Regions from separate parts of the Homo sapiens genome. Here regions 1 and 2 are each linked to region 3. The links come from fine-mapping of genetic effects on gene expression. A gene starts in region 3. Each other region holds a variant in brackets. All regions are shown on one strand. Distances are between the middles of the regions. Region 1 overlaps BLK (BLK proto-oncogene, Src family tyrosine kinase). Region 2 overlaps BLK (BLK proto-oncogene, Src family tyrosine kinase). Region 3 holds the start of BLK-AS1 (BLK antisense RNA 1).

Evidence for each region. PIP is the estimated chance that this variant, and not a neighbour inherited with it, causes the effect. A credible set is the group of variants that fine-mapping cannot tell apart.
Region 1: its variant is the best candidate, but not a certain one, in a credible set for the expression of BLK-AS1 in whole blood (TOPMed, PIP 0.84).
Region 2: its variant is the best candidate, but not a certain one, in a credible set for the expression of BLK-AS1 in blood mononuclear cells (TOPMed, PIP 0.56).

The regions. Positions count from the first base shown.
Region 1 is chr8:11,504,120-11,514,371 of GRCh38, forward strand. The region is part of intron 1 of BLK (BLK proto-oncogene, Src family tyrosine kinase); the gene reads left to right. Among named protein-coding and RNA genes, the nearest start is that of BLK, 15 kb to the left of the region's middle. RefSeq lists enhancers at 2,684-2,743, 3,807-4,036. The variant T/C (reference allele first, on the strand shown) is at 4,064.
Region 2 is chr8:11,530,834-11,541,296 of GRCh38, forward strand. The region is part of intron 1 of BLK (BLK proto-oncogene, Src family tyrosine kinase); the gene reads left to right. Among named protein-coding and RNA genes, the nearest start is that of BLK-AS1, 22 kb to the right of the region's middle. RefSeq lists enhancers at 1,012-1,091, 1,262-1,321, 6,788-7,017, 8,178-8,257 and a silencer at 7,331-7,495. The variant T/C (reference allele first, on the strand shown) is at 4,538.
Region 3 is chr8:11,553,993-11,564,377 of GRCh38, forward strand. BLK-AS1 (BLK antisense RNA 1) reads right to left here and starts at 4,273. Exons shown (of 5, transcript XR_948956.3): 1 at 3,898-4,273; 2 at 2,074-2,669; 3 at 1,726-1,870; 4 at 152-211. It overlaps BLK (BLK proto-oncogene, Src family tyrosine kinase), which reads left to right. Exons shown (of 13, transcript NM_001715.3): 7 at 751-897; 8 at 1,340-1,492; 9 at 2,666-2,845; 10 at 3,970-4,046; 11 at 7,310-7,460; 12 at 8,987-9,118; 13 at 9,911-10,385. The coding sequence ends at 10,116. RefSeq lists enhancers at 4,443-4,732, 9,379-9,428.

The sequences.
Region 1 (10,252 bases), 50 kb before region 3:
TTGAGACTGGTCTGGCCAACATGGCGAAACTGTCTCTACTCAAAATGCAAAAATTAGCTGGGTGTGGTGGTGTGCGACTGTAATCCCAGCTACTCAGGAGGCTGAGGTAGGAGAATTGCTTGAACCCAAGGAGGCAAAGGTTGCAGTGAGCTGAGATCGCACCATTGCACTCCAGCTTGAGCAACAGAGCGAGATTCCATCTCAAAATAAAGAAAGGAAGGGAGGAAGGAAGGAAGGAAGGAAGGAAGAAAGAAAAGAAAAGAAAAGAAAAGAAAAGAAAAGAAAAGAAAAGAAAAAAAAAAGAAAAGATCCCATTCACCTGCACAAAAGCCACACCCCTTTGTGGCCAAGGAAAGGGCCACAGAAGAAGAAGTAGGCCCTTCAGAAGGGGGAGAAGTAGGCGCCTTCAGAAGCTGGTTATCCGTGTGTAATGCCATCACAGGGACGTGCGTTTAAGATCTTTTATCAGTCTTCGTAGCTAAATACTTTTAGTTAATTGCAGGCGGGAGGGGCTACTAGCTCAGGCTACATGGAGCATGTGCTCAAAAACTGTCTCCAATATGGTGACTTGCTGTTTGAGGACGGTCTAAGCGACTGAGGAGTGTGCCCCCTGTTCCCACCCTTGAGATGAGGCCTGATAAGGGTGCTGGCATATTTAGTGTTGGGCACCCTGGTGCTCTCCAGCATGTGGTGTTTGGCCTAAGTGGCCCATGTGGACTTTGTTTCAAGGATTTTACGACAAGAAACACCAAAATGAGGACATCTCTGTGGCCATGTTTCAGGCAAGGGGGTAATGGATACAGAGCATATGTACACACAAACACACATGCACAGAGACACGTACAGACACATACATGCACACAGACACATAGATACAGACACATACACATAAGAATACACACAGAAACACACAGACACCCACACATATACACACATGCACAGACATGTAGAAATACCTAGACACAGAGGAACACACAAAGATACACAGGCACACATACAGGTACATCTACATGCTTATCAAAAACAACAGCAAAACCACCTACCATGACAAATACTATTGCAGCAAAACTGAACAAATAAATTCTGTGCCATAAAGTTTCCTAAACCTCATCTATTTTGTAGAAATCTAGTCACTTGAGTATCATCCTTCACAAAGTTCTTTCTATTCTTTCTACTGTACAAAGTTTTCTGTTGTCAAATAGCAAGAGATCTCTGTTTTCTACTTGGAATGGGCCTGGAGAAGGGAGACAGCACCCGCTCCCTCCACCCCTTGTCCCTGAGCACAGCATGGTGACCTGCCAAGCCAGAGGGTGACCTGGACACTCATAACTCAATGCAGGGCCAACTGTAGCCTCTGGCCGGTGTCCCTGAGTGAGGGCAAAGTTGTAATAACACTTGTTCTCTCCTTTCTCCAATTTGCTCCCAAGCTCCATTGCTTTCGTTCAGGCCCTCCCCCTTCTAGACTGGGCAGTTCCGCATCCTTGGAGCTCATTTCTCTGTCTTCAGAATCTGATGCTCCAATTCATCCCATGTGTGGCTGCCAAGGTCTTTCTAAAACTCAAATGTGGCCCTATCACCGCACAGGGTAAAGCCACCATAAACTCCTCTGTGTTTGAGAACAAGGGCCAAGTCTCCCATTGAGGCCTCCAGGGAGTGGACAGTCTGGGTCTCCTTTCTTCTCCAAGCACGCTGGGCCCATCTGTCCTGTCCCTGAGGACTCCCTGGCACACATGACACTTCAGAGCTTTTGCCAACTCCACTCCCTGCCTGAAATGCCCATCTCCTTCAGAGAGCTTCTATGTATCCTTGGAGGTCCAGTCCTAATGTCCCTGCCTCCGATAAGACCTCTCCCCATCTTCCTCTCGCCCTGCTCCTGTCCCCGCCAGGCATGACAAATCTCTTCCCACAGTGGGCCCAACAGGGAGGCAGATGGTAGAACAGGTTTTGGGCCAGGTGCCAGGTGCACGTGGCTCTTCATCCTGGTTCCCCACCGCACACCTGGAGAGCTGAGTGCTTTTCCTGAGGTCACGCAGAAGGTTACCAGCCTGGCTCTGGAGCTGTCTCTTTGCCACATCGTGGGGTGTCTTTAAGGTGACCTTGAATGTGCTTGAAGCTGTTTTATGTCCTATTTGCAGACCTAGGGGAGGACAATGCCAGGGCTTTTTGCCTTCCCAAGGTCACAGCCTGAAGACACTCAGAAAGATGTAGTTGGCTCATTTATCATTTTTTAGAAAAAAAGAAAACAACAGAATGTGCTGAATCCTTGTAACTGTTGGCCATGGCACTAGTTTCATGGAAGGTGGAAGGGCAGGTTAGGCTTCTTATGAGGGCGTTCCTGGCCTCTGGAGGGGTGTGGGTGGGCTCAGGTGAATGACTGACAGACTGGATTTACGTATGTTGAGTGTGAATCTCAGTCCACAGCTTGGTGTGCAAAAACAGAAAAGCTATCTGGTAATAGCTACATCTCTGTTGGGGAGAGGAAACTGACCTCTCAATTCAGGGTCTTCATACCTTTCTCCAGGGTGGGGTCTAAGTTCTGGGAGCCTCATGAGTCTCAGGAATTCTGGGGTGGCCTATTTGGTCTTTGTCATCAGTCCATGCAGGGGGCTGCTAGAATGTCATGTCAGCCTCTGACCCTGGCCAAGCCCCCTCTCAGAGATTCCAGGCCACATCCCAGGTTGAGGGATGCATCCTCCCACTCTGGGGCCCCCCAGGTGGGACTCTCAGGGAGGCCACTTGAGACGCGGTTGCCCAAACTGACTCAACAAGATCTCTCAGTCACGGGCTGAAAGATCTGCATCACGGGCTGAAAGCAGGAAAGTTCTTTTGTCTCTCTTTCTGCTTTCCTGTGACAATGGGTGCAGAACCATCGTGAATGGTTCAGGTGCGGGTAGGGAAAATAACAAATAGGAGGAAGAACAATCTCAGAAAGGCAGGTAGCCTGTCCCATCTGCTGACAGAGCAGTGTGTAAGCATCACTGAGCTTGTGACATTGATGTTTTTTCCAACATGCAGTATAAATGTACACTGTGATTTTACAAGGCCAGGAGCCAAGTAACAACACCCTTGGCAGAGGAAGAGTGAAGTGGGGAAGGAAACTGAAGCGGGCTAGGGAGGAAGGACAGCTTGACAACTAGTTAGAATTGGAAGGACGATGGACTAGGATTGTAAAAGAATAAGGCAGAATGTCCTACCTTCCCACCTTGGCAAACCCTGCCCCTGGGAGTGGTCCTGGATTTGCAGTGGCCCTGGCCTGGACCACCATGTAGATGTCACTAATGGATCCTCCCAGGGGACGGGCCTGTCATGGCCCTCAAGAAAGGCAGGGATGACCACCCCAACTGCAGGGGAAGACACCACCCACCCTGAGGGCTTTTGGGAGCTTTTAAAAGAAGGCAAGTCACGCTTTAAAAGAACTTTGAAGAGACAGGAGCTTAGTGGACCCAGTGGAGATAAAAGGTCCAGGTAAGGAGTGGCCAAGCACTTGGAATTTAGAAGAGGCGAATCAGAAAGTCCCAATGGACCAGCTTGGGGGTTTGGGGGTTACTGGGTCCATGTCAACATACAGCTCAGTGGGTGCCAAAGATCAGCCAGGCCTAGGGTGCAGATGACAGTGAGGCAGGATGGTGACCTGGATTAGGACTGGAGGGGGAACCTGAGGCCAGGAGAGCAGGGAAGAGATTGCTAAAGACAGTCACCCCATGGCAAGCTAGTTTTCTCCCCGAGCCAGCATTTCTACACGTGAGCACTGGCCTTGCTGTCTGGCTGGGTGACTTCCTCTCTCTGGGGTTCAGGGCCCAGCACTGCTAATCGGGGGTAGAGTCAACGGCCTTCCAGTGCACCCTTTGGTGGCTCTGTGTGGCACATCAGGCACACTGGTCAAGTAGGGGGTCATCACCAGGCCTTGGGTGCTTCTCAAACCTAAAGTCATGTGGTCCTCACAACAGCCCCGTGATGTCATCAGGAACCTGCCCACTGGCCCAGGGCTGGGAAGGACTAGAGCCAAAGTGCAGGCTCAGGACTGTTTGACCCCAAAGCCAGTGCTCTGAACCCTCCATCTGTC[T/C]TCATTAACCACCGCCTCTGCCACTACTGTAAGGCAAGAGAAGCGTGTCACGGCGCGAAGGCTAAGCACATGCTGGGAAATCACCCGTGGCTTGCAGACACATGCACAGCTACTGGGGGTAGATCAAGAGCCAAGAACGGGTGAGCTCAAGCTGTGCTCACATGGGGCGCGTGCTAGGTGACTGTAGGCCTCAGAAAACCTGGGATCCAGAACAGCTTTCCTCCGCTAGGGGGCTCTGGCACAAGTTTGCCTGAAGACATGGCCCCATGGCGAAGCCATCATGTGTGGGACCTTCCTTGGCCCCCTCTTGGTGAGCCACATTCCTGTCCACGCAGTAGCTCCAGCCCCCACCCGTGGCTTTTCACTTCTTCCTTGCTTTCCACTTCTGACCACCCTATACCAGAAGGTACTTCATGTCAGTCCTCTCCCGCATTCCCTCTGCCTTCGGGTCTCCTGGAATTGGAACTGTCACTAGTCAATCATTACTTACGGGGATGTGCAGAAAGCCAGACACTGTGCTGGGCCTCGGGCGGCAGAAATAAGACAGCCACTGTAGTGTCAGCTGTGTGCACCCATCTCTCCTTCTGACCCAAACGCAACTGTGATGGGGGCCGGTCCTGCCCTTTGGGGCCATCAGACAAGGGAGCAACTGACATTTGCAGAGGCCAGAGGAGCCGTGGTGGAGGGGTTTTCTCAGGGCTCGAGGGAGGTGCCTGCCCATCCACTGAGAGCTTTGGGAAGGAAATGCTGGGCGCCTTTTGTGCCTCCTACTCATCAATTCCCCCCAGCTGCAGGCAAGGGAGGTCGTTAGCAGCCCAGCCTGTGGGGAGCAAGCAGGCCATGAGCTGCATGCAGCTGGCACTGCTATTACTTAGGAGGCATCACAACAATGACTCAGGTGCTGACCATAACCCTTAACCAGGTCACAGTGGCTGCCTAACTGTTGAAGCTGCTACCCCTCCTTTAGGTTACACCGCACGAAAAGTTGGCAATCCTCTCTCTCGGTGGCTGCTGTGGGAGCAGCTAACCTCACAGCACCCGAAGGGATGTCATCGGGACCCCAGCTCGGTTTCCAGCATCAGCTGATGCCAGCAAGAAGCCAGCCAGGCCTGGGGCTTGGCAGCCCAGGGACTTTACCATCCACCATCCACAGGGCTGTTGCCCTGGACAGGTCATTGATATCTGACTCACAGCCAATTCATGGATGACGTGAATCCAAAAATCAGAGGCCCACGTGGATTTAGACATGGAAATGCCTCACCAGCTTCCATGAGCCAGTCTCTGTGCGGCAGACTTGAACTGCACGGGGGCTGATAGGAAGCAGGGTGGGCGCTGGGATGTGACTGCGCCCTTGCCAGTGTTTCCAGTCTCCCAGCTCGGGTTCTGTGGTTGTCTAAGCCTGGGGGTGCTCTGCCGGGTCTGTGGCGACCCGGCTGCCTTTTCAGCCTAATCACCAGAGAAGCCACAGAAAGAGCTGGACCACTTAGAGGGGCAGTCTGGCCACAGCCACTTGGAAGAACAGGCTGATTTTGTACAGATGTGTCATTTTCTCCTGACTTTTAAACTGTAAACATTATATAATACCCTAGAAAATTTTGAAAATAGATATAAACCATCAATAACACTGGCAACCTAACACTTTTACCTAAGAGCTACCCATTTTGATTTATCTGATGCGCAGTTTTCATTGCTGGAATCATAAAGACATAGCACCTTAGATTCTTCTCTTTTCTTTTTCTTTCTTTTTATTATAACATAAGCATCTTTCCCACTGCTACTTTTGATCACTTTTGAGGACTCAAAATGATCATTTTTGGGCCTGCATAATATTTCACTGTGTGAACTCTATCACCATTTCAATCAGGTGTTTCGTTTGCTTCCATATTTTTGTATCACCATAGCAGGTGATGATTGAAAAAATAAATGCAGCTTGCAAAGTCATTCTGAATTACATCGTGGAGCTGGAGAGTGTTCTTTCCTAATCCCTTCAAGGAATTACGATGATATGGGGAGATGAAACATTCATTTGGGGGCTGGCGTGGGGTAAGCTTTAAATTGCGTTTAAAGTCAGTGTGATAGTGACTTGAGTTTTTCATCTCTTTTCTCCAGCTCCTTGACGGCCATATTTGCTGGCCAGGGTTACTGGTGTGGTCTTTGGCCAGAGAGCAGACTTTCCTCTCTGTGAAATGAAATGACTCATAAGGAAACAAACCCCAAGGCTTTGGGTACATTTGTCCCATCATCTAAACCAGGGTTTCTAATCAGAAGTCCATGAATGATTGTGGGGCTTTGTCGGGGGAGAGGTCCTGAAGCTGAGCACAAAATTTGGCATGTTTGTGATAAGTGTATTTTATAGGGATAGTGTCTGTAGTTCCATCAGGTTCTCAACGGGGGCTGTGGCCCCAAAAATGTTTTTTAAAAAACCCAGCTTTCTCTCTCTGTCTCTTTCCCCCTTTCTGGGAATCCGAGATTGAAATGAAAGAAATCGAAAGATCTTTGCCTACATACAGAGGTCCAGTAATGGGATAGGGAATATATTATCCCCGGGATAGCGCCACTGTACTCCAGCCAGGATGACAGAGACTCCATCTCAAATAAATAAATAAATAAATAAATAAATAAATAAATAAATAAATACATAAATAAAGTGCCTCTTTGTTAAGGCAGTTGCTTCTATTTCTACTTTTTTAACCAAAGCTAATTGCTAATGTGTTAAAGTACGAGATTCTGCCTTGATTATGGCCGTCCGTGGTTCTTAACTAAAGGAAATGCTTTGGCATTTTAAAACACATGGATCCCCGTAAGCTTTGCATTTCTCACCAGGGAGTCAGACTGACACACAAATATTTGTGGTTAGTTAATTGTTCTTTCCTGCTACAAACACTCACCATAGGAGGTGAGCTGTGTTTACCAAACTGAAATGTTACTATTTGAGGCTGAAGGAGCCAAAGAAACCTTGAAATTCAAGAGACCAAACCCAAAAGTTCCACCCAACGGAGTGGGAGACTTCAGCTCATTGAATTCCTGAATACAGCTCGGTCTTTTGTCTTCACACAGCAATGAGAACACATGGACACAGGAAGGGGAACATCACACACCGGGGCCTGTTGTGGGGTGGGGAGAGCGGGGAGGGATAGCATTAGGAGATATACCTAATGCTAAATGACCAGTTAATGGGTGCAGCACACCAACATGGCACATGTATACATATGTAACAAACCTGTATGTTGTGCACATGTACCCTAAAACTTAAAGTATTAAAAAAAAAATCAGTTTCTGTTAACAACAAACTCTGGCACCAGTCAGCGGGTTTGACTTCCTAAAAAAGTTTGATTTGCTTTCTCTCTTAGAAATTCTGTCTTAAATTTCCTTAAACACAAGTGTGTATACCTGGAGCAAAGAACATGGGGTGTAATTCAATTTCTCTTCTCCTTTCTTCCTCTGGGAATCTCTGCTAGGTTTCCCACTTATTATTGTTGAAAACTAGCAGTCTTTAAAGGGGATGGACTTCCTGAAATACGGCAAACAGTCATGCAACAAAAAGGAGAAAATTATATTTTCATTTTGGGCGTCTTAGATGTAGTGCAACATTCAACATGAGATCAATGTGCCCTCTTGACCCCAAAGTATTGGCTAATGATCCATAATCAATATTTAGGATAACACTGGTTGGGAGTATGAATGACATCTTTCCACCATTGTCTTGGTAAATGAAACTATTTACTCTTTCTGGCAGTGGATGCTGTCGGGAGGTGGAAAAGTAAGCATTTTCTTACGTTTGGGTTTTCTGTGATTGTTTGATTATTTAATTTATTCGTTCAAAGAAGAGAAAGATTTACTGCATGTCTACAATGTATCAAGTGGTAAGATGGGGCCTGAAAATACAAAGATAAACAACCAAACAAACAAAATGGCTTTTCCTTGAAGAGCTCAGGAGGAGTCTGGTTTAGAAGGCAGACACGCAAGTTCTATGCTACTGGTCTGTAAGAAGCGCTGTGGGATCAGAAGAAGGGATGACTTAATGGGTACAGAGTTGGTGATGTGTGGATGACCTCGTGAACGAAGACTAGTTCTTCAAGCAGACCTGTGGAGGACACCACAGAAAACTGTGTTGTTTGTTTAGCTCTTTTCCAGAACTTGTTATGATCTCTTAACAAGGTCTAGCCAATATCATTATAAGCACGTAAAATTCCTCATCCTAAACCCCACCCTGAAATCACTCTGACGACATGTCAGCCATCTGACACAGATGTGGATAGTCTGAAAGCCCAACAGTTCTAATCATTTAGGTTCAATTGGGTCTCAACAGAGATTTTTACATGGGACTTCATGTTTTACAAATTATTTTAGTATTATCAATTTGATCCTTTAAGGCAGGCAGAAAACATATTTCCACCCTCTACTTTATAGATAAAGCCATTGAGGCTCAGAGAGATTTTAAAATTTTACTGCAAATTACACAGGCTTCTGGTTTTGTTTGTTTGTTTGTTTGTTTGTTTGAGACAGAGTCTTGCTCTGTCACCCAGGCTGGAGTGCAGTGGCACAATCTCGGCTCACCGCAACCTCCCCCTCCTGGGTTCAAGTGATTCTGCTGTCTCAGCCTCTTGAGTAGCTGGGACTACAGGCGCCACCCACCACCATGCCCAGCTAATTATTGTATTTTTAGTAGAGATGGGGTTTCACTGTGTTGGCCAGGCTGGACTCAAACTCCTGACCTCAAGTGATCTGCCCGCTTCGGCCTCCCAGACTGCTGGGATTACAGGCGTGAGCCACCGCGGCTGGTCAGATTATTCAATTTTAAGGTCTTACGGGCCACATAACATGATTGCCTTTCTAAAAGAATTATTTATTCATGGAAGTCTGAAGCAAGAGTCTCTTGAAGTTCTTTTTTGTCCTTGATAAAATATTTACTTTTCTTGTTTTATCCTCCTACGAGATCCCTACTGTCCATGCCCACGGCCTAGATTGGTCTCTGGCCTTGAGCCTTACAGAGCATGCTGGGTCCCAGGGCTTGTCCTCAATGCACCACACGCAGTTGGCTGATGAACTAGGACCTCTGTGTCTTGAAGTGGGAGTGGATGGTAGGAAGGGGGAGATGGAAAAGCAGGGGTACAAGGCTGATGCTGGCAGCAATGAAGACCTTGGTGATTCGTGGACCATAGTGGAGACTGAGAGGGAGTGGAGAGACGAAGAGAAACCAGAGCATCATTCCTGATGGAGCCCTGTGTTACCCCCAGGCTCCTTTAGGGCATGAGAGTGCCAGGGCTGGACCATCTCCAGGCTGCACACTTTTTCTCTGCAGCTGTGAGCAGAGCCCAGGCTGTCTGTCCCTCAGCATCCCCTAAATCTGCGATGCAATCATAGCCCCTGAATGTTAGGGCTGGAGGCAACTCAGAGATCATCCACCCACAGCCCTCGCTGCACAGAGACAGAAGCAATGAGATGAAGTGACTCGTACAAGATTGCACCTTGGGCTGCAAAATTCATACCAAGTGATCCAGGGAGGCCTTTGAGGCATTGCATTCCCAAAGTGCCTTCTAAATAGTTAGCCAGAGTTATAGAGTGGTGCTCAGAACAGGTTGTGGACGTTTATTGAATTCCATGTGATTTAAGTGTGGTTGGCGGGCAGTCCACACCACCGCCGCGCACTGCATGAGAACCCTGTGTGAAGGGGGCTTGGGGTAATGGAGCAGCTGGGCCCGACCCAGGTGGATTCAGAGTCTCCCATCACTCGGAGAAGCCTGCACCTTGGAAATAATTCAACTCCTTGGTCTGACTTTTGCAAGGGAAATGTTTGGGGCATTTTATAGGTCTCCATGGCTGTGGTGTTTTATGACATTGAACCCAATAAAACTCGTAATGACACAGGATCTGCCAAGGGGATCGGACCTTCCCTTCTGGCACAAGGAACCATTCTGTTTTGGTATCCCAGGAAATGAGTGGAGGAAAATCCTTGTTATTTCAAGTGAACAGGGTCTGGGCAAGGTCTCTGTCCCTGGTCACCTTGACCATGTGCTACCTGTCACTGAGTCTAACGGTTGCTCCAATTCAGCTGAAAGACAGGACTCAGCAAATAGAGCCTTGATCTGTCCACAGGGTACTCCTGTCCACTGTTCCAGCAAATGTGAGAAAACCCACTTGTCCTTTGCGAGAGAGAGGCAATGCTGTCTTAGTCCCATCCTAAAGGCA
Region 2 (10,463 bases), 23 kb before region 3:
GTCAAGTCTTTCTGTGGTCATATGTTTTTATTTCTCTTTGATAAGCAACAAGAAGTGAAATATCTGGGTCACAGGTTAAGAAGCTCCCAAATTGTTTCCTAAAGTTGTTTCGTTTCACCTTACCATCAGCCTCAGGTGAGCATTCTAGTTTCTCCATATGCTTGCCAACACTTGGTATGATCGGTCATCTAATTTTAGCATCTGGGTGGTTGTGTGGTGGCATTTCACTGTGGTTTTAGTTGCCATTCCCCTAATGACTGACGACACCGAACACCTGTTCATGGGTTTGTGTGCTGCTCAGCTGTCTTCTCTGTTCAACTGTTTGTTAAATTGAATTTTTGGCTTCTTTTATAGAGTTTAAAAGTTAATTATATATTCTCATATAGATACATGTTTTTCAAAAATGTCCTGCCTGTCTCTGATTTAGCTATTTCTTTTCTTAATGGTGTTTTTAAAGTGCAGAAGTTCTTAATTTTGAAAAGTCTAATTTATCAATTTTTCTTGTATACTTTATGATCTTCTATTCTAAGGGAATAATCTATTCTAAGGGAATAGAAGGTCACGTTTGTATGCTTCTGACTCATATTCTTTATATCCTTTGTGACACCAAGGTCACAAAGATTTCCTTCTAGGTTTTCTTCTAAGAATATAATGTACCTCTTTAAAGCAGCTTTTAAGATTGTTTTTATTTATCATTGGTTTTCAACAATACGATTATAATGTACCTTGGTGTGGTTTTCTTCATACTTGGGGTTGATATTCTTGAGTCTTCGGGTCTATAGCTTCTATCAAATTTGGAATTTCCATTTTTGGTTTCTTTAAGTTTCATAGTCTTTCTGGTAGCCCAGTTACGTGTCTTCTGACTGCGTGCTAATTTCTCCCCAGTCACTGATGCTCTGTTGTTTATGTTCACCTTTTTCTCCCTGTGCTTCACTGTGGGTACTTTCAATTGCAGTGTCTCCAAGCCCTCTGACCTTCCTTCTGCAGCACCCAATGTACTATTCATCCCATCTAGAGTTTTGGTTGTTTGTTTGTTTGTTTTTGAGACAGAGTCTCGCCCTGTTGCCCAGGCTGGAGTGCAGTGGCACCATCTCGGCTCACTGCAACCACAGCCTCTCGAGTTCAAGTGATTCTTCTGCATCAGCCTCCCAAGTAGCTGTGATTACAGGCACCTGCCACCAAACCCAGCTAGTTTTTGCATTTTTAGTAGAGATGGGGTTTCACCATGTTGGCCAGGCTGGTCTCAAACCCCTGACCTCAAGTAATTCACCTGCTTCGGCCTCCCAAAGTGCTGGGATTACAGGCATGAGCCAATGTACCTGGTCATGTTTTTTTTTCCTTTTATAAAAAAATTTTAATATTTATTTATTTATTTATTTATTTGAGACAAAATCTCGCTCTGTTGCCCAGGCTAGAGTGCAGTGGTGTGATCTTGGCTCAAAGCAACCTCTGCCTCCCAGGCTCAAGCAATTCTCCTGCCTCAGGCTCCCAAGTAGCTAGGATTACAGGCACGCAGCACCATGCCCAGCTCATTTTTTTTTTTTTTTTTGTATTTTTAGCAGAGACAGGGTTTCACCATGTTGGCCAGGCTGGTCTCGAACTCCTGAGCTCAAATGATCCTCCTGCCTTGGCCTCCTAAAGTGCTGGGATTACAGGCATGAGCCGCCACTTCTGGCCTCTCTTTTTTCTTAATTTCAGATATTGTATTTTTTTTAATCTCTAGGAGACCCATTTAATTTTTTTATGTCTTCATTTTCTCTCTTCATTGTCTTATTGCTTTCAGTTATATATTTGAACCAGTTTATATATTTTTGTCATTTCTGTTTTAAGGCACTAGTCTACTAATATCAAAATGTGTGCAATTTCTGCTCATGTTCCTCTCAATTAACTTTTCTCCTAGTTGAGAGTCATGTTTTTCTGTTTCTTTGCATGCCTGGCAATTGTTACTGGATGACAGGCACTATGAGTGCTGAATATGATTAGTGAGCGCTGAATATTATCGTGTTTCTTTAGAGAGTGTCACACTTGCATGTGGCACACTGTTAAGTTACCTGTGGATAAAATTGGTTTTTGAATAACAGTTCTGTGACTTACTGTACCTTCAGCAAGACCTTAAGCCTCAAGGAGCCTGAGTTTCTTCATCTGTAAAATGGGAAGGTATATGTCTGCTGTCAGGGCTACATATAATACATGAAAAGCATGCAGTAAAATGCCCAGCCTTGAGTCAGAAGGTGTACTAGGCACTGTGCCAGCATCATTAGTATTCATGTTTTATGTGATAGGCAAATCCTGCAACCGTTTTATGAGTTAATTTTAAATCTCTGCCTCTCTAGCAGGACATCTGTGTCTCTAGATCCACTCAGTAATTACAATCAACCCAAGCATGTTAAAGGCCTGAGACCTTTTCTTTTCTTTTTCTTTCTTTAACATTTTCCAATCTCATGTTTGAAAGCATAAAAGAGAACCTTTCAGTCTAAATGTTCTCCTGCACCCTCAAACCCGATGGAGGTGCTTCTCACTGCACGCTCCCTTCTTACACATTCCACCTCTGGGTTCTGCCAAGGAAACATTGGAGAAACAGCTCCAAAGGATTGAATGATGTCCAGGGCCTTTTAAGAGAGGTTCAAGTCGTGACCAGATGTGTATCTGGGTAAGATACGTGTGAACCTCCGTGGGAAAGACCAAGGGTTTGAAGTCAGAGATGTGGCTCAAATCTCTCTTCTGTGCTTCAGTTTCTTCCCTGTCTGCCGGAGGAGGAGGAGGAGGAGGAGAAGGAGGAGGAGAGGAGTAGGAGGAGGGGGAAGGGGAGGTGGAGGAGACGGAGGGGGAGAGGGAGGGAGATGGGGAGGGGGAGGATCTATCTAGTTTACAGGGTCCTCATGAGGCTCATGTGGGAAAATGCTTTGCAGGCTGGAAAGTACCACAGAGGTGTGAGTTATTATAAAAAGGGAAGTTATTTCCCTCTGTCAAAAAGCTATGCAGAAATATACTAATATGTAAGAAATGTTTGTATGGAGGACAGAAATAATTCATTTCATGGAGAGACAAGAGGATCACTGGCAGTAAAACTGCAGGCATTATTTATGGGAGACTCAAAGGAGGGAATGCCCCGTGTTGGCGGGCCTGCCTTTCAATCCTTGTCACAAGTCATGATCCAGAAGCTCGGCCAATTGAAGAAAGGGTCTCCATGAAGTGGAGCTCATGACCTGCCTGCATCAGCATCACTGGGGGCATTTTTTAAAAATGCAGATACCAGCACTGCTGGGGCTGGGGTTGGGAGTCTGCAAACTCCCCTGCTGGTTAAAATACAAACTGAGGTTTCAGAACTATTGTGCCAAAGAATCATAACTGACTCCATTGGGAAGTAATGACCCATGATTTGATTTCTCATTTAATTTTTCAAAATGCAAACAATGCAAAAAGTTAAAAATTGAAAAATAGGTTAAGGCCCATAGTCTCATCAATACAAGACACAACTGTAGTTGGATTAACATTTTGGCATATTGCTAACATATTTTAATAATCACTACTGTGAGAGTTTTTTAAAACATAAATTTACATGGTGTTCCCCCCCCAAAAAAATTCACTCACATAAAGGAATTTTATCCGTCCCCAGAATTACCTAATGAATTTCAAGCTTCTCTGTTAGCAGAATCAAATGTAGGTGACTCGATAAACAAGTGTCTGTCTTTGACTTAACACAGCTTTATAAAAATGCCTTCTTCCTTCCTTCCTGAAGGTCTGCTCAGCACCCTCAAACTTTTTACCACCTGAAAATCTTTTCTATCAATTTTACCACAATGGGGGGAGGTGAATTTCCACAAAAGATCTTTTCACTTTAAAAAATTGAAATGGCCACATAATTTCTCCTCCTAACTGTGCCGAAGTACCTAAAAGTCACAGGTTGGCATTGCTAGGTCAGCCTTTTGCAGGGGCCACACGTGCCCAAGGCCCTTACACACCCAGCCAGGTGTTACAGAGCAGCCTCTCACCATCAGGCTCTGTGCTAGTGCTGGGAAAAGATTCTGCTGGCATTTAAAAGTATTGCACAAGGAGGCCAGATGCAGCGGCTCATGCCTGTATCCAACCCAGAACTTTGGGAGGCTGAAGTGGGAGGATTGCTTGAGTCCAGGCATTCAAGACCAGCCTGGGCAACATGATGAAATCCCACCTCTACATAAAATTGTTTAAAAAATTAGCCAGGCATGGCAGCACGTGCCTGTGGTCCTAGCTACTCGGGAGGTTGAGGTGGGAGGATCACTTGAGCCCAGGAGTTCAAGGCTGCAGTGAGCCATGATCACGCCTCTGCACTCCAGTCTGGGTGACAAGAGACAGACAGATGAATGAAAGAAAGAAAGAAAGAAGGAAAGAAAGAAAGAAAGAGAGAGAAAGAAAGAAAAAGAAAAGAAGGAAAGGAAAGAAAGAAAGAAGAAAGAAAGAAAGAAAGAAAGAAAGAAAGAAAGAAAGAAAGAAAGAAAGAAAGAAAGAAAGAGAAGGAAAAGGGAAGGGAAGGAAGGAAAGGAAAGGAAGGGATATA[T/C]TGCACAAAGCATTAGCTGTGAATGACTGTAGCACACACTCTACAATCCAGCAATGGAAAAGCTTTGTTTTCTGAACGTGTTTTCTATCTTCATGTGTTTGGAAAAACACCTATTTCTGAAATACTACCCAACCCTGTTGGGAGTGTGCCTGGTATTTTTTTCTAGTGTTCCCAGTTTCTCATCCTTTGCTCTTTCAACTCCCAACTAACAAGTGTGGAAGGACTGATGGAATCAGAGCACGCCCATTTTGTAACCACTAATGGGACTTTTAAATGTCGGTGAGGAACTTGTCAATGGAGGAATAGGGATGCCTGAGCCTCGACCTATCTTAGCATCACTAAAATGGTGCAGGTAAACACTGTGAGCCTCCTGGTAGGATGCAACATGGAGCACAGATCACCTCCTCGACAGCATCTCTACCAAGAGGGGCTGAGCTTGAATCTAATGGAGCCTACAGAGGTAACTCTATGTGTAAGAAGGACGAGAGGGAAGAGCAAGTGATGAACCATCACAAGGACGCAAAATCCAAAATGGAGAACATTCTATAGGACTGGCCTTTACAAATCAAAGGCTTGAAACTAACCAAAGTCAGAGCAGAAGGGACTCCTGTTTAAAGGAAACCTAAGACGTTGAGTTATATACGAACCTTGTTTGAATCCTGAGTAGGACAAACTAAGCAAGAAGCTATTTTTAAGTCAATTGTTAAAATGTGATTATGAATTGGGTTCAATGGCTGGATGGTTAGATGATACCATGGAAATATTGCTAGTTTTGTTAGATGTGATGAAGTAACATTGGGGTTATGTGAGCAAATGTCTCCATGCTTTAGAAACAAATGCAAAATATGGGGTGGTGAAATGACTTGCTTCACTACATTGATTTCATGTTGTTTCCAAGTTTCATTCATTTAGAGGAAATAAAACGATATGATGTAAAATACTGCAACCCAGAAAACAATTTTAAAGATAATTATTGAATGTGGGTGATGAGTGTAGAAGAGTTCTATTATTATTAATATTATTATTTTATTTATTTTTTTGAGACAGTCTCACTCTGTCAACTAGGCTGGAGTGCAGTGGCAGGATCTTGGCTCACTGCAACCTCCACCTCCTGGTTTCAAGCGATTCTCCCACCTCAACCTCCCAAGTAGCTGGGATTACAGGCATGCGCCTGGCTAATTTTTATAGGCACGTGCCTGGCTAATTTTTGTATTTGTGGTAGAGACGGGGTTTCACCATGTTGGCCAGGTTGGTCTCAAACCCCTGACCTCAAATGATCTCCCACCTCAACCTCGCAAGTGCTGGGATTACAGGCATGAACCACTGTGCCTGGCCAATATTCTTGACTTTAGTATATTTTGGAAGGTTTCATAAAAAATAGTTTTCATCTAAAAAAATCTGTTGTAGCCATCCTTCTCAGGTCTGGCTAGCGTTTTCTCCCAGGTGGAAGTAATTTCTTTTTGCTGAGCTCACAAAACACTTTACCCAGGCCTCTCTTTGGTACAGAATCATGCCCACTCTGAACTGATGGAATCGGGTGCATGCCTTTCCTCCTTATTTTCCTGTGAGAGTGGGCTCCATCCTTGTTTCATGCCTGTACCTTCCGCTATGCCTGACATAGTTCATGGTTGACAGCAACTGAATGTCTGTGGCTGAATGAATAGAAGAACCTCGTTGCTAGGAACTGTTATCGGGGCTGTTTCAGGTTCACATGTGGAGAGGTCAGTATTAGGGCAAAGGTGAGGAAGCCTCATTTCAGTGGTGTTGTCCTGAGTTGAGACATGAAACATGAATTTTAACTCAAATTCTTTGGCCCCTTCTTTAATTCAGAGCCATAGGCCAATCACCGTACTTTCTTCATTTACAAGATGAGTATAGCATTGGTGGTTTGTACTGGGAGAATTTGGAATTCTGGATGTTGGTGAGATGCTCCATATGGGATCTCATGCCGGCAGCTAGCATGGCATTGTGATCGCGACACCCAGGGTGAGTCCCAGCTTTGCCAGTAGGTACCCCTGTTCTACCTGGATGCTACCCACCTATGTCTGGCAGGTCAAATCAGAAAGGCAAAGCCTCCAGCACATAACATGGCAAGGCTTCCAGATACAAAATAGCAAAACTATTTTGCCACAGGGGAGATGATAGGGAATCTGAACTGTCCCCTCCAAGGGACACAGAGCCTCAGGCAGGGCCACAGGTGCACCTGTTTTGTGCAGAGGGCTCAAGCAGCCCTGGAGACAGTAACACCCTCCAGCTGCCAGCTCTGCCACCTTCAGCATGACCTTACCAAGCCACCTCGCCTCGCCTTCTTCAGTGGTAAAATGAGGATAACTGTAACCAATTTATCAAGGCTAACATGTATTAGAAAAAAAGAAAAACTCGTTATCCGTCAAGTGCTTTTCAACCATGTCATGCTAGCCAAGTGCAAATAAGGGGTTTCTAGTTTCTCTATTTTTAGTTGATGCCTCCACCACACCCCTTGTTTGACTGAAGCTGTGTTTCAGGCTTTGAGCATCTCCCAAAGCAAACATTGACTGCCCTGCTCTGGTGAAAGTCTGCATTAGAGGGCCTAGCTGGTTTCAAATAAACAAACAACTCCCCTTTCCCACTTCCCCTCCTCTTGCTGACTCCCCCGACTAGACACACATGCACACGGTGCACATGCATGCTCTCTCACACATGCATATACACGTGCACACATAGACACACACACACATATATACACACACATATTCAAGCACATACACACATGTGTATTCACACGCATGCTCTCGCTCTCACACACACACAAGTGCACATAAGTGTGTATGCTTCCTCTCCCACTCTCTCACAAACATACACAGACTCACACCCTTCCCACAATGCAGCAAAGCCATCTGGAGCCCCAGCCAGTGTGTGATGCGTTTTGCCTCTGTCTGGACTTCTGCACTTCCTGGCTTCACCCAACCTGAAACTGCTGGGTGCAGCCCGAGCACCAGTGACAGCCCTGGTTGTCCCATGGCCTCTTGAGGAACCCAGGTCTCCAGTCAAAGCCACTGGAGTAGGGGGACCCATAGAGACCTGAGGTACTCATGAGACCCATGGAAAATCATCTGCACACACACTGCTAAGGAGTCAAAGGACAGAAGTGTAAGTAGTGGGTCATTTAATCTTAGGAATTTTACTTTCTGTCCGGTTCTTTGTTCAATAAATTGAACAACCAATGTTCAATTATGTTGTCTCAGTGGACACAGGTGTTTGCCAGGAAGCTTAAAGTCAATGGCAATATGGCTGGCCAGACTAAGAAAGACAAGAGGGCTGGTCACCTGGGCAGATGCGGAAGTATGAGTCCAAGTCTGGGGAATATACTAGGAGCTGCTGACCACTGGCCCTTCGTTGAGTCAGGGAGGCTGAGAGAGGCCACGAAAGGCCTGAGGTTCAGGCAGCCCTGGCTGGCCACTTAACGGTCATTGTCAAGAACTGCAGGCTGGCCCTGGCTCCAGGCCTTATGCTCCTCTGTTGCTGGGCAAATCACTCAAATCCTCCTTTTATTTTTCTGCTTGTATCAATAATATATGCTTAGTATTAAAGAATTTAAGAAATATATACAATTAAAAGAAAGAAAGTCAAAGTCACATGAAGTCTTATAATCCAAAATCCATTTAGAAAATACTTTGGTGGGACCTGCTTTGCATTAGCACACACACCGTTTTTTAAGTCCGCTGGTTTTTTTTTTGTTTTGTTTTGCCTTACACCACACCTCTGTTTTGTACTCTCCCTTCCTCTAACAATAACCACAGTAAACAACTTGGTGTTCATCCTCCCCAGCCTCTTTCTGTGTAATATGCAAACATATCTACACGCCTGAATAGAGGTTTCTTTTCATTTGGTGTTTGCAAATATGGGATTCCCTCATGCACCTCTTTGGGTCTTACTTTTCTCGTGTAACAACATGGTACCGAAATTCCTCTTGACCTCACTGGTGAAGATCCAGCACATTTTTTTTAGTAGTTGTATGAGAGATTTATAGAGTGTAGATTTATTCAACAAGTCTTCAATTGCTGGGCAGTTACATTGTTGTTTTCTGTTTGGGATTTTTTTTCGGGGGAGGGGATTGTTTTTCCAACTATTACTACAACAAACATTTTCATCTCTCACATGTGTCTATATAATGATGTTTTATTAACCTGAGATAGTCCAGAGTGGGACTGAAAATCAAAAGGTATGTGTGCTTTTTTATTTTAACAGAATTTAAAAGATTGCCCTTTAAAAGAATTTAAAAGATTGCTTCTTCCAATAATATTTCATGTTTTGTCTAATAAATATTTATTAAGCCCACACTCTGTGCCAGACATTGGTTTAGCAATTTGGATTCAGCAATGAATAAAACAAAGATTCCAGCTCTCACAGAAGATTAATCCTAGAAATGGAGCGTGAAGGAACAAATGAAACAATAATTATAACAAACATTTTACTATTTGGGTTTGTGTTGCACTAACTTCCTATTTCTTATCTTTACACATTTTTCTATTGAATGAATTATATGCTGCAATATACTTCCTGTCAAAAGTTTATGAGCTTTGTATATATTATGAATACACATTTATCTGATGCTTTGCAATCTCTTACCCAATCTATTGCTTATCTACGAACTTCATGAGTAGTTTCTTATACCATCTAATATTTTTAATGTTTATGAATTTGTACTTTTTTTGTTCTCTCTTCGCTTCTGGGTATTTTATCTTTGTTAGTAGTTGTCTCCAAACTCTGGGTTATATACACAGTTTCTTACATTTCTTTTAATTACATTTTTGTTTTTTATTTTTTTCAGTCATACACCTAGAATTTATTTTTTAATATCATGTGAGGTAGGGGTTCAATTGTATTTTCCTTAAGGTAAATAGTCATTTTCCTAATACCATTTATTAAAATAAACTATCCACTTTCTACTGAATTAAAATGCTATCTTTTTCACATACGCGATTCCTGTATTTACCAAAATCTGTTTGTATGTTTTTTATTCTGCTCTGATGATTGTTGTCTACTTTTATTATTCCAATTTCATGCGGTTTTGATTACAATCTTCTATTTCATAATTATAAAGCTAGGTTAAGACTTAATTTAGTCATGTAAAGCTTCAGATGATTTTATGCAATTACAAATTATAATTTTAATTAAAAGAACATTCCATTTATATTAGGAACAAGAAAAACATCACAATCAAAAAAGAGAACAGAGTATAATAATTACAAGACAATGCTACATAAAACTATGGCAACAGATTGGAAAATGTAGATGAAATTAAAGATCTATAAACCATATAAATCATCAAAATGGCACAAAGAGGAGAAAAAATGGGAATAGATCATTCCTATAGAAGAAATTGGAAATGTCTTTAAAGATTTACTATTTGAAAGGGCCCCAGACACAGATGGCTTCACAACTGAGTTCTATTTAGCCTGTGAGGAACAGATAACCCCACTGTTATGAAACCACTCAAGAAGATAGAAAAAAAAAAAAAAGAGAGCTCCTCAATATCTGTTACAAAGCCAGCGCACCTTAATGCTAATGCCTCATAGACAAATCTCCCTTGGGAATACAGATTCTCATTCTAAATAAAATATTAGCAAATAGGGCCGAGTGTGATGGCTGACACCTGCAATCCCAGTACTTTGGGAGGCTGAGATGGGCAGGTCACTTGAGCTCTGGAGTTTGAGACCAGCCTGCATGACATGGCAAAACCCTGTCTCTACCAAAAAATAAAAAATTTAGTAGGGCATGGTAGCACATGCCTGTCATCCCAGCTACTCGAGAGGCTGAGGTGGGAGGATCACCTTAGCCTTGGGAGGCAGAGGTTGCAGTGAGCCAAGATTAGGTCGTGGGACTCCAGCGTAGGCAACAGAGTGAGACACTGTCTCAAAACAAAATAATTAGCAAATAAGAATCC
Region 3 (10,385 bases):
CTGCCGCGAACTCTGCTGGGCCCCAGCGTCCTCATCTCCCAAATAATGGGTAAGGGGCGGGGTAAGGTCATGGTACCCAAGTAGCTGGACAGACGCATTTTATAAAAACATCAAGTTCATGGAAAAGCGTTTCTTACCTGGAAATTCTTACCTCCTAAATTGTCCTTAACCCTTGACATCTGCTACCACTTGCCTGCGGGAAAACATTAACCTAGAAGACAAAATAACAGGTGTATGTAACAGGCAGCAAATGACTTTGAACAGAGCCCCTGGGCATAGCTTATTACGGTGTCCGCCATGGACATGGGTACTTGCAGCTGTGAATGGCTATCTGCTTGTAGGAGTAAGAGATACCCTCTTTAGCCAGAAAATAAAGCCCCTAGTCACTCCAACGAGACTAGATTTCTCAATAGTCCATGACAAAGGGTCCCCGAGTGACCAGATGCCCAAGTGGGGACCTACATGATTGCTGAGAAACTGTGCTGCCTGCCGCAGGGCTCTGTGATTCCCTGGCTGAGTTTTGCAGGATAGTGGGGGGATGCCAAGGTCAGAGTCAGATGGAACTTACAGGGGAGGCTTCCAAAAGCATGGAGGTTGAGATGCAGGGAAAGGAAACTTGTGGAGGGAGTGCTGATAATGAAGAACAGAATTGGGGAACTTTTTTCAAAGCTTTAAAATGAGGCCCAAATCCCAGTCCCGTTTTTTGTCTTTGTGCCTTACTTCTCGTGTGTGTCTTCATGAACCCTCCAGGTGCCTTCTCCCTGTCTGTGAAGGATGTCACCACCCAGGGGGAGCTGATCAAGCACTATAAGATCCGCTGCCTGGATGAAGGGGGCTACTACATCTCCCCCCGGATCACCTTCCCCTCGCTCCAGGCCCTGGTGCAGCACTATTCTAGTAAGAGGGGGCGTGCAATGGGGGCAGGGACTTGTGCCAAGAGCCCCTGGATCTCTCGCTAAGATTCCCAATTGTGTGAGTCATTGGTGCCACCTTGGGGGATGGAAAGATTATCCCAAAGTTAGGCCTAAGGAGGTAGCAACTCTGAGCACCGGGAATTGGTGGCCCTAATTCCCTCTCCTGGCTCAGCAGGGAACCCCTTAGAGAGTAGCAAGCATTTTCAGTCTTAGAGTGAGCAGGTCGATTTTAGAGATAGCATGCCCTGCTTTGCGCAAACGAAGAGAAAGAGTTGAGTGTGTGTGCATGTGCAGGCGTGTGCACACACCCATGCAGGGGGTGGGGTGGCTGGGGAGTGGAGGGCCAGCTAGGAATGATACAGCTCCCAAGGTAGAGCCTGGCTGCTCTGGTAACCCCCAGCCCTGTCTTTTCTTCCCTAATGCAGAGAAGGGGGATGGTCTATGCCAGAGGCTGACCCTGCCCTGTGTGCGCCCGGCCCCGCAGAATCCCTGGGCCCAGGATGAATGGGAGATCCCCCGGCAGTCTCTCAGGCTGGTCAGGAAACTCGGGTCTGGACAATTCGGCGAAGTCTGGATGGGTGAGTGTGTGCACACGTGGGAGCATTTCTCCCCCCATTCCACCTGCGCCGCATCCTGAGTCCAGGTTCAGCATTTTCATAGCGTGTCATCCCTCCCCCAGAAGTCTTGAGAGGGAGCGAGGACAGAGGCGAGGACACTCATTTTACAGAGGAGGAAGTGGAGGTGCAGAGCCGCGTTGTAACAGCTGGGACCGCTTATGGTGGTGGCAGAGCAGGAACAGAATCCAGCTCACCCAGCCCCGAAGTCGCTCCCTCCTTCGTTCTCTGCCTGAAGCTGGCTTTGACAATGAGCTGCAGCGGCGCGTTAACTCCCCTTAGCTTTTCATCACCCAGATGGAAACAGGAGGTTAAACGTGATGAGCCATGATGTTCCAGAGCCTGAGTGCACACCGAGGGCAGCCGTGGGACTTTGGCCAAGTCACTGAAGCTCCAGGCCTGGTGTCCTCACATTTCCATCGCTGCTGACACCTGCCCCCTTCCCCCCCCCGCCCACCAGGATATAAAACTCGTGTTCCGTTTTATCCCTGGATTGGTCCATGAGTCCTCCCTTACCTGGGGCTGGTCCATGAGTGCTCCCTTACCTGGGGCTGATGCCCACGGTGCTTTTGGCAGGAGCTGTACCCAGGTCCCTGCCAAGGCCCATGTCCTCTAGAAAAGCAAGTAGAGTTGTCTTTTGCCCTTCAGGGGACTTCATGGAGTACAGGGAGAGTGTGGAGATACAGATAGTTTAAGGAGTGGGACAGGATCGCCATGGGGCTTCAGAAGGAGGGAAGGAGACCCCCATGCGTCATCCTCCTGCCCAGTGTACCCCAGGCTGTGTGCTTATTTCCACCAAGGAGTTATTGTGTGATAGAAGAGACTCATTATGTAGGGGAGGGGTGGGGGAAGGACACAGGTTCCGTGCAGGACAGAAGGACACAGGCCCAGGGTGTGGGGCAAATAGGTGAAATGCCCCCCAGGCAGGGTACATTCCTCCACTGCCTGAGGCCCCATATAGAAGGGACCTGGAACGCAAGGTAGGCACCACACAACCATGGCCTCCGGAACTGCATGTTCCAGCTCTGGCACCTGGAATGGGGTGGCACCTGGGCACTTACCCCGATTTTGGTTAAGGGATCACCTCCGAGCAAGCTCTCTGTCTTCTGATTGGCTTCTTCACTCCCCCGGGCTCAGGTTACTACAAAAACAACATGAAGGTGGCCATTAAGACGCTGAAGGAGGGAACCATGTCTCCAGAAGCCTTTCTGGGTGAGGCCAACGTGATGAAGGCTCTGCAGCACGAGCGGCTGGTCCGACTCTACGCAGTGGTCACCAAGGAGCCCATCTACATTGTCACCGAGTACATGGCCAGAGGTGGTGCCCCCCGCAGAGCCGCATCCTCAGAGCGAGGCGGGAGGGCCGGGCTTAGCAGGAGGAGGAGGGTCCGCTGCGGTGGGTTCACCAGGCCAGGGGGTCCTGCAGATCTAGGGCATGGCACGGTGTGGGGACAGGGAGGGATGGAGGGAGGGGGAGGGACAGAGGGAGGGTGAGAAACAGGAGGGTGAAGTGGTTCTGACAGAGCCATGTTCTCAGCCCAGGAGCAGTTCAGACAGCATTTCTGGAGTGCATCTTCTGTGCCTAGCACTCTTTGATGCCTGCTGGGAGGGACAGAGCATTGCAAAGTCAGACGAACACCAGGCCAGGCATGCAGGGACAGTACTAGATCCAGGTCTCCTGCCTCCTGGTCATGCAACCATTTACAACTGTGTGAATATTTTACAAGGATGGCCAGAGAGGTTGGGCTTGATGGCCTCTGAGGTCCACGGCGTGGCCAAGTTCTCATGCCACTTTCTCACCCTCCTATGACCCTGACCGCACACTGCTCCTATAGGATCCTAACATGCCCATGTTGATATAGCTCCCTAACAACTGTCACCAAGGGGCCCCCGGTCGGAGGCTGTGCTGGGGGTGCCTCTAGCCTGCCCCTAGGGCAAGCATCCATCCCTCCCAGCTTTCTGATTCCAGGGGGAGCTGCATTTGTCCCCTGCACCAAACCTGGGGGACAGTTCTCTCCATTCTGGTGCTTTCTTGCTGATGCCTGGTCCTCAGAGGCAGAGGGTGTCTGCCAGCAGGGATCAAGGGAGCGAGGCCAACACGGGGGGAAAGACAAGAAGGGGCATGAAACTTCGAGTCAGAACTGGGGTCCCACTCCCAGCTCCCGGCTGGGTGACTTCAGACAGGTCCCTGCACCTGGCTGAAACCTAACTTCTGGGCAACTGCTGGTATATTGGCTGCCTCCCGGGGTGCTGAGACTGGCATTTTGTAAAGTGGAAGGCACTCGGCAGCAGTAGGTAGATCCTTCCTGATGCACCGAGAGATCTGAGGGTGCAAACTCCCACTTCCCGCGCCCATGGGGAGCCACTCACACCAGAGAGAGGCTGGCACCACCAGGGGCGGGTCACTTTGCAGAAGGGCACTTGCAACTTCTCTTTTCTTAGGATGCCTGCTGGATTTCCTGAAGACAGATGAAGGGAGCAGATTGTCACTCCCAAGGCTGATTGACATGTCGGCGCAGGTTGGTGAAGTACCAGGTGCAGAGAAAGGGCGGCATGTGCCACCTGCTGCCCACAATGGCTGCTCGTGCCTTACCACCCCATCCTCTCAGCCAGCAGGAGAAGTCAGGGGGTACTGAAGGCCACCTTCCTCTAGGCAGATATCCCCAAGGTCACCCACTGCACTTGGACTTGCAAACCCTGGCCACTGTGCCTCCTGCCCCACGCAGCTGTGAGGGAGCCCAGGGAATGGAGCCTTAGACCCGGGCTGCTGTGTTGGAATGAGGCTATTCTGTTCCGAAGGAAGAGAGGGCGAATGAATGTCATGGGAAACACACAGAGTTAGCAAGAGTTCCATTGAACCCGGCAGGCAAGTGTGTTCTGTTGTGACCTCATCTCTTCCTTAGATGGTGCCCACAAACATCTCCTGTAGGACTTCCCATCCCAGGGGCCCTCAGCCTTTGCACAGCCCTGGCGTCGACCCCAGGCTGATGGGCAGGCCTGAGCTACACACAGATGCCAGGGACATGACTTCTCTGAGCCCTGGAGGACAGCCCCACCTTCTGCCACCAGGGAATTGCGAGTGCTGGACCTCCTTGGCTACCCAGGACTGGTCCTCAGTGTCCCTCACGTTCACATGCAGAACTTTCTGGACTCCATGGGGTGAAGAGCAGAGTGGAGAGGAGGGTTTTAGCCGAGAGCTCTAGCTGGCAGGAAGCACATCTGGTGGCCCTGTTAAAACTGGAACTCTCAGCAGAAAAGTTTTGGTCTGTGGTCAGCCTGTGAGGCACACACGTGCGTACACATACACACACACATACAGCTGCCACCGAGAGGAAACGCTCCCACCCACCGCCCACATCAGCCCTCCCACCTCGCCCCTCGCCCAGCCTTACCCAGTAGCGCCGCTGCAGGAACTGATGCCACAACGCCTTTTTCCGCTGAGGTGGGCAGACAGCCATCTGGGCAGGCTGGTTTTGGAAAATGAGTGCTGGTAACCGGCTTCAAACCCCAGGGCAGTGATAAGCCTGCCCACTGCTGCTGCTTCCTTTCCCCTTCCTTCTCTCACCCTCCGCTGTCTCCTATTCAATCCCCACTACACCCCCTTGGGAAATCTCGTGTGACCCAGGGGCAAAGGATGTGAAAAGCCATCGGAGTTTAATACCTGGATGTAGCCACAGAATCGGGGGTGAGGAGCCAGAAAATCAGAACTTCCCAGAAGGGCAGCCTCTAACCACATGCTGACCATGCCAATGGCTCTCTAAGCACACATGTACACACACACACTCTCACACACATAAAAACACAGACTCACACACACACGGACAAACACAAACACATACACAGACTCACACAGACACGCAAACTCACACACAGACAGACACACACACAGACACACAGACTCACACACACAAACTCACACAGACACACAAATACACAGACTCAGACTCAAACACAAACTCACACAAACACATTTACACAAACTCACAAACTCACACACACAAACACACACACAAACACGCAAACTTACACACACATGAGCAGACACACACCCGGCCCTTCTGGGCTCTTCTTTTCTTACTCCATAGGAAGCCATGCAAAGTCTCGCCAGACCTTTCTTCCAAGGCCAGATCTGGCCAACCCCACAGGAACCCTGCAATCACAATCCCTCGGGCCCCACTTTGCAGCCAGATGCCACCGGTTCCCATGCCCCATGCCTCGCCACCCCTCTACCTCCTCTGCCCAGGAAGCCTTGAACACTTCCCACCTGGCAGAATCCTTATCATCATCCATGGCTCAAGCGTAATGTCATTTCTATGAAGGTTTCCCTGGACAAGAAACTGCCAGAGAGCCCTTAGCTCAGGTGTTCCCGGAAGCACTGTTCTTGCTCAGCAGATCTGGGCAGCTTCTTCTTGAAAGCAGATCTGGGCCCTACTCAACATTTTTTAAAATATATTTCTGGTACTGTTCAATAAATATTAGTTATCAGAACGAGTACTGTTAGATGCTGCCCAGATATATTTAGTACTCAGTTTTATATTCCCCACAGTCCCATATTAGTAAATGAGTATTGATTGCATGGTGTAGCAAGGGGATGGATGGATGCATGGATGGGTGGATGCGTGGGTGGGTGGGTGGGTGGGTGGGTGGGTGGATGGATGGATGCATGGATGGATGGATGGATGGATGGATGGATGGATGCATGCATGGATGGATGAATGGGTGGATGGATGGATGGGTGGGTGGGTGGGTGGATGGATGGATGGATCCATGGATGGATGGATACATGGAAGGATGCATAGATGGATGGATGGATGGATACATGGATGGATGCATGGATGTGTTGATGGATGGATGGGTGGGTGGATGGATGGATGCATGGATGGATGGATGCATGGATAGATGGATGGATTCATAGATAAACCAACAAAATGCAAGCATAAGGAGAAGTGGAATCAATTCTAGTGCTGGCTTCTTGAAGTCGCATGTCTGAAGAGGTAAATGGGGTCTCTGCTTTCTGCCTCAGTTTCTTCGTCCATTGATTGGGTGAATAAAGCCTTAGTTTCCTCAGCTAAAAGGTGCCAAGTAGCACCAGCTGCTATCCCTGGCCCAGGCTGGTGATCAGGGGAGGAGAGACAAGTCTCTTCTTCTTCACAGCCTCTGTCCACCTGGATCTGCCAGTGCTCCCTGGGTGCCCCCACGGGGCAGGCGCTGGGTGAGGTTCTTGGTCACAAATCAACCTCGTCTAATGCTTGCCTCAACCCCCTGCCCTGGAGACCACATCCCTCATGTTCCATGTCAGGACTGTGGCCCCTCGGGGAGGTTAAGCAGCTTGCTAGAGGTCAGCGACTTCCCGAGGGCCTCCAGCTCCAGGAGCTGTGCTTCCAGCCAGCCAGTGAGAGCTGCCTGTCCTTGCCTCCTGCTCCCCCTCCCCCTCCTTCCTTACCATTTCTTCTCTTCTCCCTCCCTCTCCTTTTCTCCTGCCTGTGTTCTTCTATCTTCCATCTCTGCAGACCCTTGGACACAGCTGTGTGGAGCGAGAACGAGGAGGGGGAGGGGCACAGGTAGCCCCTGTGTCTCTGATGCCCACGTTGCTGCGTTGCTGTTCTGGGCTTCTAGGAGAGGAGTTTATTCGGCTGAGGAGCAACACAGTCACCTTTCTACTCCATCCAAGAAACAGCTCCTTCCCCAGCAGCCCACAGGGGCTGTGCGGGGGACACAGTGTGGGCTCGGTCTTGGCGTGGAGGCCCCCAGGCTGTCCTTCACCATGTGCCTGTTCCCTCAGATTGCTGAAGGGATGGCATACATTGAGCGCATGAATTCCATCCACCGCGACCTGCGGGCGGCCAACATCCTGGTGTCTGAGGCCTTGTGCTGCAAAATTGCTGATTTTGGCTTGGCTCGAATCATCGACAGTGAATACACGGCCCAAGAGGGTAAGCACAGCCCCTAACCACAAGGGAAACCTAGGGCCTTATCTTTCCCAGCTCCTCAAAGCCGCCTTTAACTTCTCCCAGCACAGCCCTGAGGGAAGACACCTGAGGGCTATACGGTTTCTACAGCTCTAGATCAGCATTTCCTTCATTTACCCAAATGTGTTCAGCAGAATGGTAGTGCCCTGAGACCTCCCATGGAGGAACAGCTTTAGGATAAGGTAGGTTTGGAGAAACAGCAGTCCACCCTACTCCCTGTCTTGGAGATTCCCAGTGCACATCAACATATTAAAGGCACTGAGAAGTCCTGCAGCAAAGAAACAGTTTATGTTTGCCTCACCTAGTGCCTCCCAAACTAATTTGAGCTCCAAATACTATTTTTTTTTTTTTTGAGATGGAGTCTCTGTCACCCAGGCTGGAGTGCAGTGGCACAATCTTGGCTCACTGCAACCTCCGCCTCCTGGGTTCAAGCAATTCTTCTGCCTCAGCCTCCCAAGTAGTTGGGATTACAGGCGTGTGCCACTACACCTGGCTAATTTTTGTATGTTTAGTAGAGATGGGGTTTCACCATGTTGGCCAGGCTGGTCTCGAACTCCTGAATTTAGGTGATCTGCCTGCCTTGACCTCCCAAAGCGCTGGGATGACAGGTGTAAGCCATGCCCAAATACTATTTTTATATAGTCCCTATTAACCTTCCATGGAATTAGGCTTTCACAGAGCACACTGTGGGAAACACAGCTCTCATGTGCGATCAGCAAACCAACCTGTATTAGGGTGTCCACGGAGCACTGTTTTACTCTGTGCATATAACTGAGGTGGAAATCTACGTCACAAGAGAATCTGAAGGGGTCACATATATTTATCAAGCTAGCAAGCAGTGTCTGCTGAGCCTATGAGTCAGATGACAAGCAGACAGGATATGGCTTGTTCTCTCGGGAACTTCAGGCTGGCTGGGGAGACCGAGAAATGGAGGCCAGGGGAGGCTGTGAAGTGCCAAGCCCTGAGGTCTGCTCCAAATGCTGGCCGGGGCTGCAGCCATTGAGGTGCTTCACAGGGCAGCCGGATGTGAGTTCTTCCTCATAGCGGCCCTCGGAGGTACAAGTGTCACCATTTCCATTTTGCAGGAAGGGACTAACGGAGGCGCCCGCAGGTTTAAATGGCTTGCCCAGGCCATGTCTTTTAAATTAAACAAGGCCCCTGTAAGGTGAAACAGGCCCCTTCCATCCCAGGTGGAAACGTGGTGGCTGCCCATTGAGGCCATCGCTCTCTTTTTAAAGAACCAAAGTGGGTGACTGTGTGGTATTGGTGTCCATATCGTCTTTCTGTGCTGCTGATGTCGTGTCTGCACTCACCTGGTCATGTGTCCTGGTGTGCGGTAGTGGCTCCCCCGCCATGCCTGGCCGCCCCGCCCTGTGAGGCCCCGCAGTGGGGGCTTGATGGAAGGACAGCAGGAGCAGGGGTAGGGGTGAGGATGGAGGGTAGGGGCCACCGGCCGTGGCCTCCCAAAGCTTGCATGGCTTTTCCCACAGGGGCCAAGTTCCCCATCAAGTGGACAGCCCCGGAAGCCATCCACTTCGGGGTCTTCACCATCAAAGCAGACGTGTGGTCGTTTGGAGTCCTCCTGATGGAAGTTGTCACTTATGGGCGGGTGCCATACCCAGGTAGGTGGCTCACCCCGCAGCTCGCGGCTCCCTGCTTTCCCGGCCGGCCCTGATGGCAGGTCGCCTGTGCTTGGTGCCTGTGGCTGCCCTGTTCTTTTCAGAGTGAGTCCCAGAGCGAAGACGGAGACCCAGGCATGGCATCTGGGGTGGAGCTCTGCCCCCTGCATCACTATTGCTCTGGGCCACAGGGCTGTGTCTCCTTCCTCCAGCAGAGGTCAAATGAGTCCCTCAAACTGAAATCAAGACAAAGGGCACATCCGAACTCAAGTTTACTCCCAGTGGCTTGTTCTCAGTTGAGGACAGGTTGTGCCTACCTTGGCTTTGCACCCATAGTGGATTCCCCAAAGCCCCTTCCTGTGTGGCCAGAATCGTGGACGACAGCCCCCAGCCCCAGTCGAAGGGCTCCAGCCACTTGGCCCCCACAGGTGGGCAGGCTCCGGGTCACCTGCTGCTGTGTGCACCTGGCAGCTGCCCATGAGTGATGGGCTTGGCTGTGCCCCTGGTGGTCACAGGTAATCAAGAGAGGGAGGGTCCCATCTTCAGAGGACCTGCCCCGTACTCAGGAGAAAATCTACAGCCTCATTTCTAGGCATTCCCCAGGCAATAAAAAGTAAATAAAGGGCTGTTTAGAGACCGGGCAGCCAGGCAACGCACGAGGCTGGAGAAGTGGTCTGGGACTGTGGGCACTGCTGTCCCTTGCCTGGGCCCACTGTGCCCCGCGGGACGCTCAGGGCCCCCCACCCACCGAGGACCCCAGCCCCTCACCCCCGCTTGCGGTCTCCTCTGCCGCAGGGATGAGCAACCCCGAGGTCATCCGCAACCTGGAGCGCGGCTACCGCATGCCGCGCCCCGACACCTGCCCGCCCGAGCTGTACCGCGGCGTCATCGCCGAGTGCTGGCGCAGCCGGCCCGAGGAGCGGCCCACCTTCGAGTTCCTGCAGTCGGTGCTGGAGGACTTCTACACGGCCACCGAGCGGCAGTACGAGCTGCAGCCCTAGCCGGCCGCGCCCGCCTGCGCCCCGTGCCCACCTCTGCGCGGACGACCCCGACTTCCGTGCCATCCCAGACGGGCCGCGAAGGCGGGGTGTCGCCTGTGCCCTTTTCTCAGACCCGGAATCCAGTGGGCAGAGGCAGCTTCGCAGGGGGTCCCCGGACGGACTCCTTCACCGACTGCACCCCCGGGCGAGTTACGCGGCCTCTCTGTGCCGCTTCATTTGTAGAGGGCTGTAACAGTGACCTCGCACGGTCATCCGGAGTACTAAGCCCC